Linked DNA regions of Homo sapiens. The protein of the gene in region 2 purifies or fractionates together with the protein of the main gene of each other region. This does not show direct contact. Each region holds a gene or a part of one and is shown on either strand. Other genes may lie near its edges.

The links. The genes of interacting proteins can lie anywhere in the genome.
Region 1: the proteins of PCED1B (region 2) and S100PBP purify together in Homo sapiens (affinity purification with mass spectrometry; 3 studies listed by BioGRID and IntAct, with this or other methods). This does not show direct contact.

Annotation. Positions count from the first base shown.
Region 1 is NC_000001.11:32,813,238-32,820,673, reverse strand, and holds the start of S100PBP (S100P-binding protein), read right to left. Parts: upstream 3,022-7,436; 5' UTR 2,985-3,021; exon of another isoform or gene 2,828-2,984; intron 2,494-2,827; exon of another isoform or gene 2,329-2,493; intron 2,150-2,328; exon of another isoform or gene 75-2,149; intron 1-74. Other genes in the region: YARS1 (tyrosine--tRNA ligase, cytoplasmic), read left to right, coding at 3,430-3,486.
Region 2 is NC_000012.12:47,074,937-47,082,633, reverse strand, and holds the start of PCED1B (PC-esterase domain-containing protein 1B), read right to left. Parts: upstream 3,014-7,697; 5' UTR 2,909-3,013; exon of another isoform or gene 2,675-2,908; intron 1-2,674. Other genes in the region: AMIGO2 (amphoterin-induced protein 2 precursor), read left to right, coding at 3,632-5,200.

The DNA.
Region 1 (7,436 bases), on a different chromosome or scaffold from region 2:
ATGAAGTCAATGGGAAAGATACAATGATTATACTCTGTGAAGTATCAAATGTCCTCATATATCACAGTACCTACCTGATAGGGTTGTGGCAAGAATTAAATGAGATCGTGAACATAAATGTGGCACACTAGAGGCATGGCATAAGAGACAAATAACTGGTGGCCATAGTTATTATTTCACCCCACCACCATCATTGCCCCGATCCCTGGAGTCTTAAGAGAAGCATAGGGCCAGGCGCAGAGGCTGATTCCTGTAATCCCAGCACTTTGGGAGGCTGAGGTGGGTGGATCACCTGAGGTCAGGAGTTCAAGACCAGCCTGGCCAACATGGTGAAACCCTGTCTCTACTAAAAATACAAAGATTAGCCGGGTGTGTGGTGCATGCCTGTAATCCCAGCTACTTGGGAGGCTGAAGCAGGAGAATCGCTGGAACCCAGGAAGCGGAGGTTGCAGTGAACTGAGATCGCACCACTGCACTCCAGCCTGGGTGACAGAGCGAGACTCCATCTCAAAAAAAAAAAAAAAAAAAAGCATAGGAACGGTAGGAAAAAAGAGTGCTAAACTGGTAGGGAATTTCCCCTAGACCCTGCTTGAAATTATCTAATATACTCTACTCTTATCTAGTTTAATCCAGCACTCAACCATATTGTCACTGAAGACCAGACTAGGTAGACATCTGAAATATCCGGCAAATTATGCAAATTAATGTTCACTGAACTATCCTTTATAGAGGTACTGGACCTCAGCAATTCACTTCAAGTCTCTGAACTTCAATACAGATGAGAACATGCATCTAAAAAGGGGGTAAATACTGTTAACTTCAAACACAGATTATCATGAGAAAAAATAGGATGTTTATGAAAGTACTCTAAACCTAAAAGTTCTATACTAAAAAAACATGGTATTTAATGAATGTGCAAGGGGGGAAATCCTCATATAAAACTGAAGTTCTTCAGTGAAATTCCAAAGACAGCCTTACTTATTACTTCTCTGTCAAAAGAAGGCTTGCTTACTTCTCTGTCTACCATCTACCACCTTTCTTAGCACTTGTCTGGTAACCTCCACTTAAAATATGGGGACCCCTTTATTTTTTTATTTTATTTTTATTTTTGAGACAGGGTCTCACTCAATCACCCAGGCTGAAATGCAGTGGCGTGATCTGGGCTCACTGCAACCTCTGCCTCCCAGTTTCAAGCGATTCTCATGCCACAGCCTCCCAGTAGCTGGGATTACAGGCGTCCACCATGCTAGGCTAATTTTTGTATTTACAGTAGAGATGGGGTTTTGCTATGTTGGCCAGTCTAGTCTTGAACTCCTGGCCTCAAGCAATCCTCCGGCCTCGGCCTCCCCAAGTGCTGGGATTACAGGCGTGAGCCACCATGTCTGGCCATATCCCTTCATTTTTAAGGGAAGAATATTTTTCCGATCTTCTAATTCTATTTCTTAGTTCCTCTACACCCCATCCTTTCTGTGACCCCATTCTGTCCTTCCACATCTCTCTCACCTGTCCACCCCCTTCTTCACACTTCAGTTTACCACCCCCTCTCTGTTCTCGAACCTCCTGGTTGCAACCTCAGAAACTGGTTCCCTTTCTATTTTTATCTCACCTCAGAAAACCTACTGCCTTCGAGCACAAAGCCTTACTTTATTGAGGCCACTAAAACTGCAACACCAGATGCAAGCCCACATCCTCTTTCAAGCTCTAAAGTCAAGACCATTACCAAGCAGGGTCTGACAGGTACAGCCAAGAGCAGAGATTATTTCCAGTGGACAAGACTTCCCCCTGGCCTTTGATTTCCAACCTTTCCCAAATGCAATACATGTGAAGCACACAGCACGAAACGCACTCAGCAGGCTTTATCACTCCATAAAAAATAGGCACAACATTTACAAAAAATCAAAAAGAACTGAAATTATCTGTAACAGTTTTGCAAATTCCTTCGAAGTAACTAAAAACACTGCAGGACGGAAAAAACAACCCAGGGCTGCAAATCTTTGCTTTAGGTAACATTTCACTAGATGAGGGTGCCAGGATTCTCCTCCCACATGGACACAGAGAACAGATGCGCTAAGCTGCAGCAACAGGTTTCTTTTCAAAAAGAAAATGTGCTTTAAAACACTTCAGGCAGGTCTGGTAGAGCTTGGAGTCCCTAATAAATACACAAAACACCGGAGATCAGGTTAGGGCAGGCCGTGGGCAATTCAACCACTTCTAGGACCTTTCCAGGGCCCACTGAGGTAATAACTGCTTTCCCTCTTGCCCTGGAAGTAACTGGTGACGCCGCCTCCAGCCCTTGAGGAGCCGGAGAAAGGGTGGCCCAGGCCCAACCTTTGGAGGATACTGCCTTGGCTCTCTCTCACAAATGCAACGGCCCGGGACGGTGTCGCCTTCCAGGAAGGGCCTTTGCGTCTCCCTCCCCCGGGGACACCGCGAATTCCCGCCTCCCGGCGGAAAGCGGGAGAAGCGAGAGTTTTCTCCCCGCCCCTCCCCCAGTAGGGGCAAACCCGCCCCTCAGCAGGCCTGTGCTGTGCGCTCCTCTCCCGGGGACCACCGTCCTCAGATCTCCCCAGGGAATGGGTCGTCCTCTTCCTGCCCCCACCCGCGAGACGCGGCAGAAAAGCCCGCGGCTATCTTCCCGCCAGCAACAGCCTCCCGCCGAGCCGGCCGGGACAGAGGCGGCCCCCACCCCCACTGGGCAGGGGACTGCAGACGGCGCTCCCCGACTCTCAAGACGACCAGGGAGCTTCCCTTTTCCTCAGCGGGGTGAGGGGCATCTGTCGCCCGCCGACTTGGAGGTGGAGGGGCAGGGACATTCCCTCGCCATCACCTCAGGAGCTAGAACGCGCCCTTCTCGCAGCAGGGCGTGGGCCTCCCAATCCCTCCAAGGGGCGGACGGCGTGCGCAACCCCCTGGAGAAGCAACAGGCGCCCCCATCCCCCTCCAAGCCGGGTAACGCCGACCCCCTCGTCCCTCCCGCTCTTCACCTCCGGAAGCCGGGCCAAAGCCTGGGCGAACGACTGCGCCTCACTCCGCCCCCTGCGCCATTTTATCGCCCCCTCCCCGACCTCCCCTACCCCGAGTCAGCCGGGCCAACACCAGGGGGAGGGCAAACCAGCAGTGATTGGCAGGAAACCGTCCCGCCTCTAGGAGGGTTGTGCCCCGCTCAGGCGCCTCAGCCCCGCCCTCCGCACCGCCCACCGTGCCCACTGGCTCCACCTTTTCCCGTCTCATCGACCTGCTCGACTCTCTGCTGCTCCTCACTTTTTCCGGCCGCTGCCGGAGGGGTCCAGGCCGAGTAAGCGGAGCGCCGAGCCCAGCTGATGCAACCTGGCTGGACTCGCGTGACAGTTCCCGGCACGCGGCGGCGACGGTGACCCAGGAAGGGGCTCTGGTGCCGGGCTGAGCGGGGGAAGCAGGGGTAGCGGAGCCATGGGGGACGCTCCCAGCCCTGAAGAGAAACTGCACCTTATCACCCGGAACCTGCAGGTCAGGCCTGGGGGTTGGAAATGCGCCGTTGGGGATTAGGAGCCCGAGGTTCAGTGATTTTGAGCCCCATTACGGGGTTCTAAGTATGTGGGGCCGGGGACTCGGCGCTGGCGCAGCTCTGAGAGAGCCTGTAGATCTCACTGCTGGTCGGTCAGTCAATCAAGCAGCCCTTCCCTGGGTTCCCCAGAAATCACAGTGGGCTCACCTCTTGCGTCCAGTTGTCTTGTGTTGGAGCCAAACTTTGAATCCAGGACTCCCATTCCACCCCCCTATTAAGTGCCAGACGTGGTGCTTAGTCGCTGGGGATACGTCAAGGGCCTGCCAGAGCTTGTCTGAAGGGGATCAGACGTTAAAAATGACCCATTACGGTTCAAGTAAGTACTGGAAGATGCTATACTGGGAGCTTTAAAGGGAAAGAGAGAAGGGAAGGCTTCCCTGAGGAAGTGACCTCCAAACTGCGCCTTGAAGGAAATGGATCCCCCCCCCTCACTCCACAAATGTTCCGTTTGTTACCAAGAACTACAGGAGTAGAAGTGAACCAGAGGAAGAATGGAAGAATAAGGAGGGAGAGCATTTCAGATGGAGGAAACAGAAATTGTGGCAAATTTAGCTGGAGTGGAGTGAGCAAAGTTATGAGGAAGCACTTAAATATTTATATTGCTTACCCCTTAACTTTTTCAGGCTTCTGACTGTTGTCACCTTATCAGCGACGCATGATTTCCGACCACTTTATTTAAATAACAAACCCTCTGGCACCAGAACTGCCCCATACCTTGCTCTGCCTTTTTTTTGTTATTGTTTCTACATAGTATACATTTTATTTATTTGTTTAAGAGAGGTAGGCAGGGACCAAGTCACGGGAGCCTTGCAGGCCTTATTCTGTTCAATTTTAAATTGGGCTTCCTTCTAAGAGTAGTGATAAATCAGTTGGGCCACACAGCCTGTTCTGTTTTTTCTTTTTAGAGATGTACTTCACATACTATAAAATTCACCCTTTTAAAGTGCACAATTCAGTGGGTTTTAGTATGTTCACAAGGTTGTGCAACCATCACACTATCTTTTTTTTTTTTTTTTTTTTTGAGGCGGAGTCTCGCTCTGTCGCCCAGGCTGGAGTGCAGTGGCCCAATCTCGGCTCATTGCAACCTCCGCCTCCCAGGTTCACGCCATTCTCCTGCCTCAGCCTCCCGAGTAGCTGGGACTACAGGTGACCGCCCCCACGCCCGGCTAATTTTTTGTATTTTTAGTAGAGACGGGGTTTCACCGTGTTAGCCAGGGTGGTCTCGATCTCCTGACCTCGTGATCCACCCTCCTTGGCCTCCCAGAGTGCTGGGATTACAGGCGTGAGCCACGGCTCCCGGCCACAACCATCACACTATCTAATAAAACTTGCACCCGTTAGCAGACGCTACCTATTACCCACTACTCCTAGCCTTAGAGAAACACTAATCTACTCTCTGTCTCCAGGTATTTGCGTATTCTGGGCATTTCCTGTAACTAGAATCATACAATATGTTTGTTGTGTCTGACTTTTTGCACTTAGCATAATGTTTTCAAAGTTCATGCATGTATTTGCACCTAGCAGAACGTCATTCCTTTTTATGGTTGAATGATACTCTGTTGTATGGATATACATTTTGTTTATCCGTTCATCAGTTGATGGACATTTGGGTTATTCCATTTACAACTTAGTCTTAACCAAAGGTTTTTGCACGCTTCCCCTAGCTAGATTCTTTGTTTCCTATTCTCTCTCCATAAAATAGTGCTGGTTGGAGACTAAAAATACACAAAACTATTAGAATTGACTCAATTGGGTTTTTTGTTTTGGGGATTTTTTTTCTGGAACGGAGTTTATCTCTTGTCGGCCAGGCTGGAGTGCAATGGCACAATCTCAGCTCACTGCAACCTCTGCCTCCTGGGCTCAAGTGATTCTCCTGCCTCAGCCTCCTGAGTAGCTGGGATTACAGACGTGCACCACCACGCCGGGCTAATTTTTGTATTTTTAGTAGAGACGGGGTTTCACCATGCTGGCCAGGCTGGTCTCAAATTCCTGACCTCAAGTTATCCGCCAAATTCGGCGTCCCAAAGTGCTGGGATTACAGAGTGAGCCACAGTGCCCGGCCTCACTCAGGTTTTAAAGGCTAAGTAATGTGACATCTTCTTGGATGGTGAGAACCCTCCAAGTGTCCACGTTGTCAGGGGTGCTCTTGAGCATGCGGGATCAGCTGCCAAAAGACTTGGAGCACAGGAGTTTAACAAGTCCTGGTAAAACATGATTCAAACCAGCAGTCTATCATGGTTTCTGACAGCCTCCCAAAACCGTAACTTGAGGAAACACTACAACCTCTTATCGGGGTACACTGGCCTGTTAGAATTTTTCCAATACTGTCATAGGACAAAAAGAAATCATTAAAGGTTTGTAAAAAGGAAAATGAGTTTTAAAGAAGTTTTTGAGTTTTAAAAGACTGTCTCTGGCTACCTTTTAGAACATGGATTGGAGGGGCCAAGCGCAGTGGCTCATGCCGGTAATCCCAACACTTTGGGAGGCCCACACGGGCAGATCACTTGAGGTTGGGAGTTCAAGACCAGCCTGGCCAACATAGTGAAACCCCATCTCTACTAAAAATACAAAAATTTCTCTGGCCTGGTGGCGGGCACCTGTAATTCCAGCTATTTGGGAGACTGAAGCAGGAGAATCGTTTGAACCCGGGAGCAGAGGTTGCAGTGACTCAGGATTGCATCACTGCACTCCAGCTTGGGTGACAGAGCAAGACTCCGTCTCAAAAAAATAAAAAAGAACTTGGATTGGAGGGAGTAAGAGTAGATTTGGGAGACCTGTTAGGAGAATGTTACGGTAATCCTGGTGTGATCTGATAGGGCCTGGATTTGGGTGGTGATGTAGAGGCAGAGAGAAATAGGAGGGTTGAAGAGCAGTTTTGGAGTCCTTGAACAACTCTAAATGATGGTACCATTTACTGTAGTAGGAGTGAAACTATCAGTGAAAAAGATGGTTGGGGAGTGAAGTAAGAAGTCAAGAGCATGAGTTTTATTTTGAACACGTTGAGTTTGAATGATTGGGTTGATAACAAGAACACGGTTCTGTGTATGGGCGTAAGCAGGAGATTTGGGAGTTACTGGCTCATAGTAGTAATTGAAGCAACTGAAGGGGATCAGTTAAGGAGACTGTAGAGTAAGAAGACAAAAGACCAGAGCCCCAAAGATTGCTAATATTTAATGACTAGGAAAAATAAGAACAGTTGCAAAGAAAGCTAAGCAGGCAGAGACGAGGAAAACTAAGAATAAAATAAAGGAGACCAAAAGAGGAGAATGCTTCTGGGAGGGAGTGAGGACTAAAAAATACTCACTGAATTTAGCAACGTGAAGGTCTTCTGTGATCTTAGCAAGATTATGTGTGATGTGATATGGAATTTAGTAGTATGATGTAGTATGGAATTAAAATTGGAATGGGAGATTAGGAAATGGAGCCCAAAAGAAGAGACAACTGTTACAAGAAATTGGCTATGAAAGGAAGGAGAGTGAGTTAGAGGCATGTAAACCAAAAAGTATCTGAGGCCAGGTGTGGTGGCCCACACCTATAATCCCAGCCCTTTGGGAGGCTGAGGCAGGTGGATCATTTGAGGTCAGGAGTTTGAGACCAACCTGACCAACATGGTGAAACCCCATCTCTACTAAAAATACAAACAATTAGCTGAGTATGGTGTTGGACGCCTGTAATCTCAGCTACTCTGGAAGCTGAGGCAGGAGAATCACTTGAACCCTGGAGGCGGAGGTTGCAGTAAGCGGAGATCACAGAACTGTGCTCCAGCCTGGGCAACAGAGTGAGACTCCATCTTGAAAAAACAAAAAGTATCTGAGACAAGTCTCAATTAATTTAGAGGTTTATTTTGCTAAGGTTAAAGACCATGGCACCTGACACAGCCTCAGGAAGTTCT
Region 2 (7,697 bases):
GCATAGCTCAGTGTCTGGCATATAATAAAGGCTCAGTACATATTTATTATCACCATCATTACATGTGTTAGTACTCTGTCCGTCACAAGTGACATGCAACTCAAAATAATTTAAGCTAAAAAAGGGGGTGGGGTGGAAAATATAATTAAAAAGGAAGTAAAAGTATGCAGTGGCCTTCAGGTACTACCAGATCCAGGACTCAAATAACATTTACAGGACTCCTCTTTCTCTTTCTTCTCCTTTTTTTTAAGACAAGCTTTCAAAGCATAAAAGGCAGGACAGCAACCAGCAGATTCAGTTGGGGTAAACCGTTATCTTAACCACTTTGAATAGGTTCCCTGTTCATCAGTTCATTTATCAAAAATTTATTGAATGTGTTAAGCAGGGTTCTGAGAGCTGAGAATACAGCAATACACAAAACAGATAAAACTGCTATCCTCTTGGAATTTACCTTCTAGTGGAAAGAGGGAATCTGTTAGAAGGAGAAGGGATGCTAGAAAGATAAAAATGTTATCCTCCACAAAATAAGGTCACGTCTTATACCTTAAGATCAACTCTTATCTTTCTTTCCTCCCAGCTAGTAAACTCAATCCTTTTACAACGTTCTTCCCTTTCACAAACATGTGAAATCCCCCAAATCAGGTCTTCAAATGGATAAATAGCCTTGTCTATGGATTTTGAGTGCATTTAGTTTACTTTTGCTGTGTAATCTCTGCATAATGTTTCTACAATATGCCTGTAGTTATAATAATATAACCTTCCTGTTTCCATTTTTTTGAATCACTTATTCTTTTTAGACTATTTTTGCATTAAATACAGGTCTTTCTTCTGCCTTCATGGTTTCCTTAAAATACGATGTTAATTAGTAAAATCCTGCAAAAACCTGGTCATTTATTAGTCATTTAAAAAATATTCCTCTGAGCGATTTTAATTCTATTCCTCTGTATTAACTATTCTAACTCTATAAAATTGAAGTCCTGGAGACCAAGCTTTTGAGAATCCCAGGAAGTGTGGCCTAATACTAGAAAATCTCAACTTCTGCCTCTCCCCTTTAAGTACACAGTAAGAAATGCTTGCATGAAGCATTTTAGGCTGTGTTCTTATGATAAAATTCAACTTTCATGAAATAAATTAATCTGAATCAAGTTGTCCTCATCTGAAAATGCCTAGATTTATTAGTGCTAGCCCGGCTTTATTCCACAAACAATTCTATTTAAATTAGGTGTTGGTCTAACAAATCTGCCTGACCACAGCAATGACTCACGGACCATGTAGGAAACAACTTTCACTAAATTCAAGATTGCTCAAGTGAAAAGGTGCGCGGGGGAGGGGAGGAAGAGTTGGTTGTCCTCATCATTTTTATTTTTAAGTAATATTACAAGTTATCTATCCTGCCCCAACTGTTTCCTCAATTTGGTTGCTTTTCATTCCACTGTGGTTGGCATCTTTTGTCAAGGCAGTAATTTATTTCTTTTAATCCGGATATAATGGCCAAATGGGCGATCTGACTCACTCAAATCCCATCGTTAAAACTTATCTTGGAATTAAACAAAAATGGATTTTTAATCGTAGAGCTCATCAGCCTCATAGTCTCCACCTCATTTCTGAATGGCCTTGTTCGGCTTGCACCTTCTGTGCTTGCTGAACCAAAGCGCGCTGGTCGGCCGCGGCATCTCCGGAAGGGATGAAGAGCCTCCGCGCACACGCCCCTTACTTCCCTGTCCCGCACGCGCCACGAGCACGCTTGCAAAAGACGGGGAGGTGGCGGGGACAGAGACAGAGGAAATGAGAGAGAGAGAACGAAAGAGAAAGGAGAGAGAGGGAGAGAGAGAGGGAGAGAGAAGAGGGGAAGGAGAAGAGAGAAAAAAGAAAAAAAGGTCTGCTCTGGGATTATTATTATTATTTGGGTTAATACTCTTATCTTTGCATTCCAGCCGGAAGGTCGGCTCCAAGCCTTCTTTCCTGCCCTCCTCCTTCTTGAATTGGACACCATCCCTGTTGCCGCCTCCTGAGTCAGGAAAGGGATAGAACTTTCCCAGGGAGGTGAGGGGTGTCCCCGTGGCGATTTCCCGGTTACTTCCTCCCAGCAGATATCCCTGTGGAGAGGAAACGTTCCCGACTTCCCTCCCCGCGACCTCCTCCCTAGAAACGAGCGGAGACGTCAGGCTGCTTCTGGGTTTATTTTGTAAACCCAGACAGTCAACTGCACTTGGCGCAGGCAAAGCCTCCTTGGCCCTTGCCCCAAAGCAAAGCTCTAAGAGGTCCGGGGATTCCTTGGCCTGGGTGGGGAGAGAGACGTGACCTGTGCGGCCGCCGCGAAGTGGGTCTCCAAGGGTGAGACCCCTCCCTCGGTGGCTGGGCGTGTCCCCTTTAGCCTTCCTGGACCCCATTACCGCCCGGCTTGGAGCTGGACGAAGGGACGTAATTGGTAGGCGAGTGGGTTGGGCATCTTGACTCAAGGACCAGAGTCTGGGCCTCTGGTGTGGACCCCTGCCCCCTCCCCGCTCTGCGCGGCCGTTCTAGAGGTCCGGGTGGGAGCTGGAGGAGGAAAGCGGGAGGAGGCGGCGAGGCCGCGGGGCGGTATGAGGGGGCGCCGGCCGCCTCTCGGATTGGCTGCGCCGCCGCCCCCTCCGCATCGCGCGCCCCCCACCACGCGCCCAGCCTGCTCCCTCCCGCAGGCTCCGAGCTGCTGCCCGCAGGAGGCAGGACGCGCAGGGGTGGGACCGGCGCCCCAGCCCGTCTCCCGGCCCCGGGCGCGCGGGAACCCCGGGTCCTGCAGCCTCCCGAGTGCGGAGAGGCGGGGCCGCCCGCTGCCGCCCGGCTGCCTGCGCCCCCTCCCGCGGCCCCGGCTCTGGGAGCGGGGCGCCCCGCGCGCGGGCACACGGCGGCCAGAGCGCCGAGGCGGTACCTTCAGCCTGCAATGAGAGGAACCCGGGAGAGCCCCCGGGAGCCAGCGAAGAGCTTGGCTGCTGCGTCCAGGGCTGCTGCTGCCGCCGCGGCTGCTTGAAACTCCTCAAAGTTGAGAGCCGGCTAGAGGGTGCCGCCCGCCGGGAGCCGGAGGGAAAGGAAGTCGGAAGGTGCAAGAGTGACAGACACGGACAGACGGACGCGCAGACCTTCGGAAGGCACTGCGTAGGCAGCCTCCCCGGAGCCCACGAGGCTCCCCAGCACCGTGAGTTTTTTCCTGGATGGGTGGTTGCTAAGTATTTCCGTTTAATTGTTTGTAGCGTACGTTTGCGTATAGTTGTGTCTGTTGGAGGGAGTTTAAAACAACAACAACAACAACAACAACGCAGGATGCACCTTAGGAAAAAATTGAGTTTCTGATGGTGGGTGAGACGGTGGGTTGTATGGAGAGAATGTGACTGTACATTTTTATAAGCAGGACTAACCCAGGAAAGAGGAAAAAATACATTTAACAGTGAAGAGGCAACACAGAGCTCCCTATTGTGAAATAAAACCCATTTCAAAAGTTATTGGAAAGAAAGTAAGGTATGGCTCTTATGGGTTAACTAGTGGTAGTCAGTTTCTGCTTTTTACTCCCTCTGAATTATTAATTGTTTGCCAGGTTCACTGGTGGGAGGCTGAGCCGGTGGAAAAGACACCGGGAAGAGACTCAGAGGCGACCATAATGTCGTTACGTGTACACACTCTGCCCACCCTGCTTGGAGCCGTCGTCAGACCGGGCTGCAGGGAGCTGCTGTGTTTGCTGATGATCACAGTGACTGTGGGCCCTGGTGCCTCTGGGGTGTGCCCCACCGCTTGCATCTGTGCCACTGACATCGTCAGCTGCACCAACAAAAACCTGTCCAAGGTGCCTGGGAACCTTTTCAGACTGATTAAGAGACTGGACCTGAGTTATAACAGAATTGGGCTTCTGGATTCTGAGTGGATTCCAGTATCGTTTGCAAAGCTGAACACCCTAATTCTTCGTCATAACAACATCACCAGCATTTCCACGGGCAGTTTTTCCACAACTCCAAATTTGAAGTGTCTTGACTTATCGTCCAATAAGCTGAAGACGGTGAAAAATGCTGTATTCCAAGAGTTGAAGGTTCTGGAAGTGCTTCTGCTTTACAACAATCACATATCCTATCTCGATCCTTCAGCGTTTGGAGGGCTCTCCCAGTTGCAGAAACTCTACTTAAGTGGAAATTTTCTCACACAGTTTCCGATGGATTTGTATGTTGGAAGGTTCAAGCTGGCAGAACTGATGTTTTTAGATGTTTCTTATAACCGAATTCCTTCCATGCCAATGCACCACATAAATTTAGTGCCAGGAAAACAGCTGAGAGGCATCTACCTTCATGGAAACCCATTTGTCTGTGACTGTTCCCTGTACTCCTTGCTGGTCTTTTGGTATCGTAGGCACTTTAGCTCAGTGATGGATTTTAAGAACGATTACACCTGTCGCCTGTGGTCTGACTCCAGGCACTCGCGTCAGGTACTTCTGCTCCAGGATAGCTTTATGAATTGCTCTGACAGCATCATCAATGGTTCCTTTCGTGCGCTTGGCTTTATTCATGAGGCTCAGGTCGGGGAAAGACTGATGGTCCACTGTGACAGCAAGACAGGTAATGCAAATACGGATTTCATCTGGGTGGGTCCAGATAACAGACTGCTAGAGCCGGATAAAGAGATGGAAAACTTTTACGTGTTTCACAATGGAAGTCTGGTTATAGAAAGCCCTCGTTTTGAGGATGCTGGAGTGTATTCTTGTATCGCAATGAATAAGCAACGCCTGTTAAATGAAACTGTGGACGTCACAATAAATGTGAGCAATTTCACTGTAAGCAGATCCCATGCTCATGAGGCATTTAACACAGCTTTTACCACTCTTGCTGCTTGCGTGGCCAGTATCGTTTTGGTACTTTTGTACCTCTATCTGACTCCATGCCCCTGCAAGTGTAAAACCAAGAGACAGAAAAATATGCTACACCAAAGCAATGCCCATTCATCGATTCTCAGTCCTGGCCCCGCTAGTGATGCCTCCGCTGATGAACGGAAGGCAGGTGCAGGTAAAAGAGTGGTGTTTTTGGAACCCCTGAAGGATACTGCAGCAGGGCAGAACGGGAAAGTCAGGCTCTTTCCCAGCGAGGCAGTGATAGCTGAGGGCATCCTAAAGTCCACGAGGGGGAAATCTGACTCAGATTCAGTCAATTCAGTGTTTTCTGACACACCTTTTGTGGCGTCCACTTAATTTGTGCCTATATTTGTATGATGTCATAATTTAATCTGTTCATATTTAACTTTGTGTGTGGTCTGCAAAATAAACAGCAGGACAGAAATTGTGTTGTTTTGTTCTTTGAAATACAACCAAATTCTCTTAAAATGATTGGTAGGAAATGAGGTAAAGTACTTCAGTTCCTCAATGTGCCATAGAAAGATGGGGTTGTTTTCCAAAGTTTAAGTTCTAGATCACAATATCTTAGCTTTTAGCACTATTGGTAATTTCAGAGTAGGCCCAAAGGTGATATGACTCCCATTGTCCCTTTATTTAGGATATTGAAAGAAAAAATAAACTTTATGTATTAGTGTCCTTTAAAAATAGACTTTGCTAACTTACTAGTACCAGAGTTATTTTAAAGAAAAACACTAGTGTCCAATTTCATTTTTAAAAGATGTAGAAAGAAGAATCAAGCATCAATTAATTATAAAGCCTAAAGCAAAGTTAGATTTGGGGGTTATTCAGCCAAAATTACCGTTTTAGACCAGAATGAATAGACTACACTGATAAAATGTACTGGATAATGCCACATCCTATATGGTGTTATAGAAATAGTGCAAGGAAAGTACATTTGTTTGCCTGTCTTTTCATTTTGTACATTCTTCCCATTCTGTATTCTTGTACAAAAGATCTCATTGAAAATTTAAAGTCATCATAATTTGTTGCCATAAATATGTAAGTGTCAATACCAAAATGTCTGAGTAACTTCTTAAATCCCTGTTCTAGCAAACTAATATTGGTTCATGTGCTTGTGTATATGTAAATCTTAAATTATGTGAACTATTAAATAGACCCTACTGTACTGTGCTTTGGACATTTGAATTAATGTAAATATATGTAATCTGTGACTTGATATTTTGTTTTATTTGGCTATTTAAAAACATAAATCTAAAATGTCTTATGTTATCAGATTATGCTATTTTGTATAAAGCACCACTGATAGCAAATCTCTCTCCAAAATTCTTAAAGTTGATTTTTTTAAAGGGGGAGGGGAAGGCTTTAATGTGTTCTAGATCAATTTATACCTTCCGTATGACGTTTTACTCTGATATCATTGTGCACTTTAGCCAGATCCAGAAAACACTCAAATTTATTTTGCAACAAGTGAGAGCCCAGGAGACCTCCTTATTATCCTGTCTCTGCTTTGAGGCAATCAAGTACCCTCTCTGAACCTAGGTTCCCTCATCTGTAAAACAAAGGTTTCAGACCAGATGGTGTTTAAGGTTTCTCCCCATACTGGAATGAATGATTTCTTGGTGGTATTAGCATCATCACAGACCTATACTTGCTTTCTGAAACTCTACCACATACTGAAGGAATACAGGAATGGGATTAAGATGACTAGCATAGCAGTGTACAGCTTGAAGAGATGTTCCACATCATCACTCCAGCTCCTTCTCTTTTCTCAGGGACAAATGAGGCCCAGAGAGAATACGACCTGTGTAAGGTCAAACAGTGGCAGGGAAAGAAGGAGAGCTGGGGTTTAGCATTCTCCCTGGTGAAGATTGGAGGTCCAAAGAAATGACTCCTTTTTAAGGGATGGGCATAAAAAAGTGATCAAAACATTGCAAAGGAGAATCAAAGATTGATTGTCCTGGGGCTAAGAAAGAAGATAATTTTTAAAGAATGGGAGTGGGCAACAGTGAAAAATATTGCAGATAAGTAGATAAGGATAGAAGATCAACCACTGACTGGTAGTAATGGTTTTCTGTGAACAAATCAGAATAGTAATAGTAATAACGATAATCAGGGATGCATGGTGAGAGCTCCCTAAGTGCCATGTGGGGCTTTCAGTGGCAGACTGGGCAGCGGGAAGTTAAGGAACAAGTAGCCAGGAGGTGTCCTTTTAGGGAACAGTATGTAGATCCGCTGCTCGGTAGCATTGAAAAGTCCCTATTGGATGGTGTTAAAAATTACTGTCCCTGCCCCTTAAACACCAACCTCACCCTTTGGACAATATCCTTCAGAGCCAAAGATGTTACAAGCAAGCATTTTATTCTGCTTACTGCCATTAAAATAATTAGGAAGAATTCTGTGACTTGTATGACCTTGGAAATCATCACCTCTTCTTGCTTTATAGAAACGCAGACTCAAGAGATGCTGTGATTTGTTTAGGATCATACAGCTAGTCTGGACACAAGGGAAACCTCTTGATCCATGAAAGCTCTCCAGCAATGTGATATTCCGGGAATGTTTAATAGAGCTAGGACCATCCTCTGACAAGGAAGTTGGAGAGAGGATTCCTAAATTAAATCTTTTTCGGAAGGGACCGCTAAGGTTCTTCCATTCCTCAAATCCTTGATCCTATGAAAGTAAGTGTTGCATTTGCCAGGGAAATATGGACAGTGCTAGGAGTAAGGAATGGCTTTCTGGCAAAAGGATAGGATGAGCTGAGATAGAAACTAAGATACTTATAACCAAAACAAACAAACAAACAAAAGCAGAAAGAAAATCCCAAATACTGAAAAGC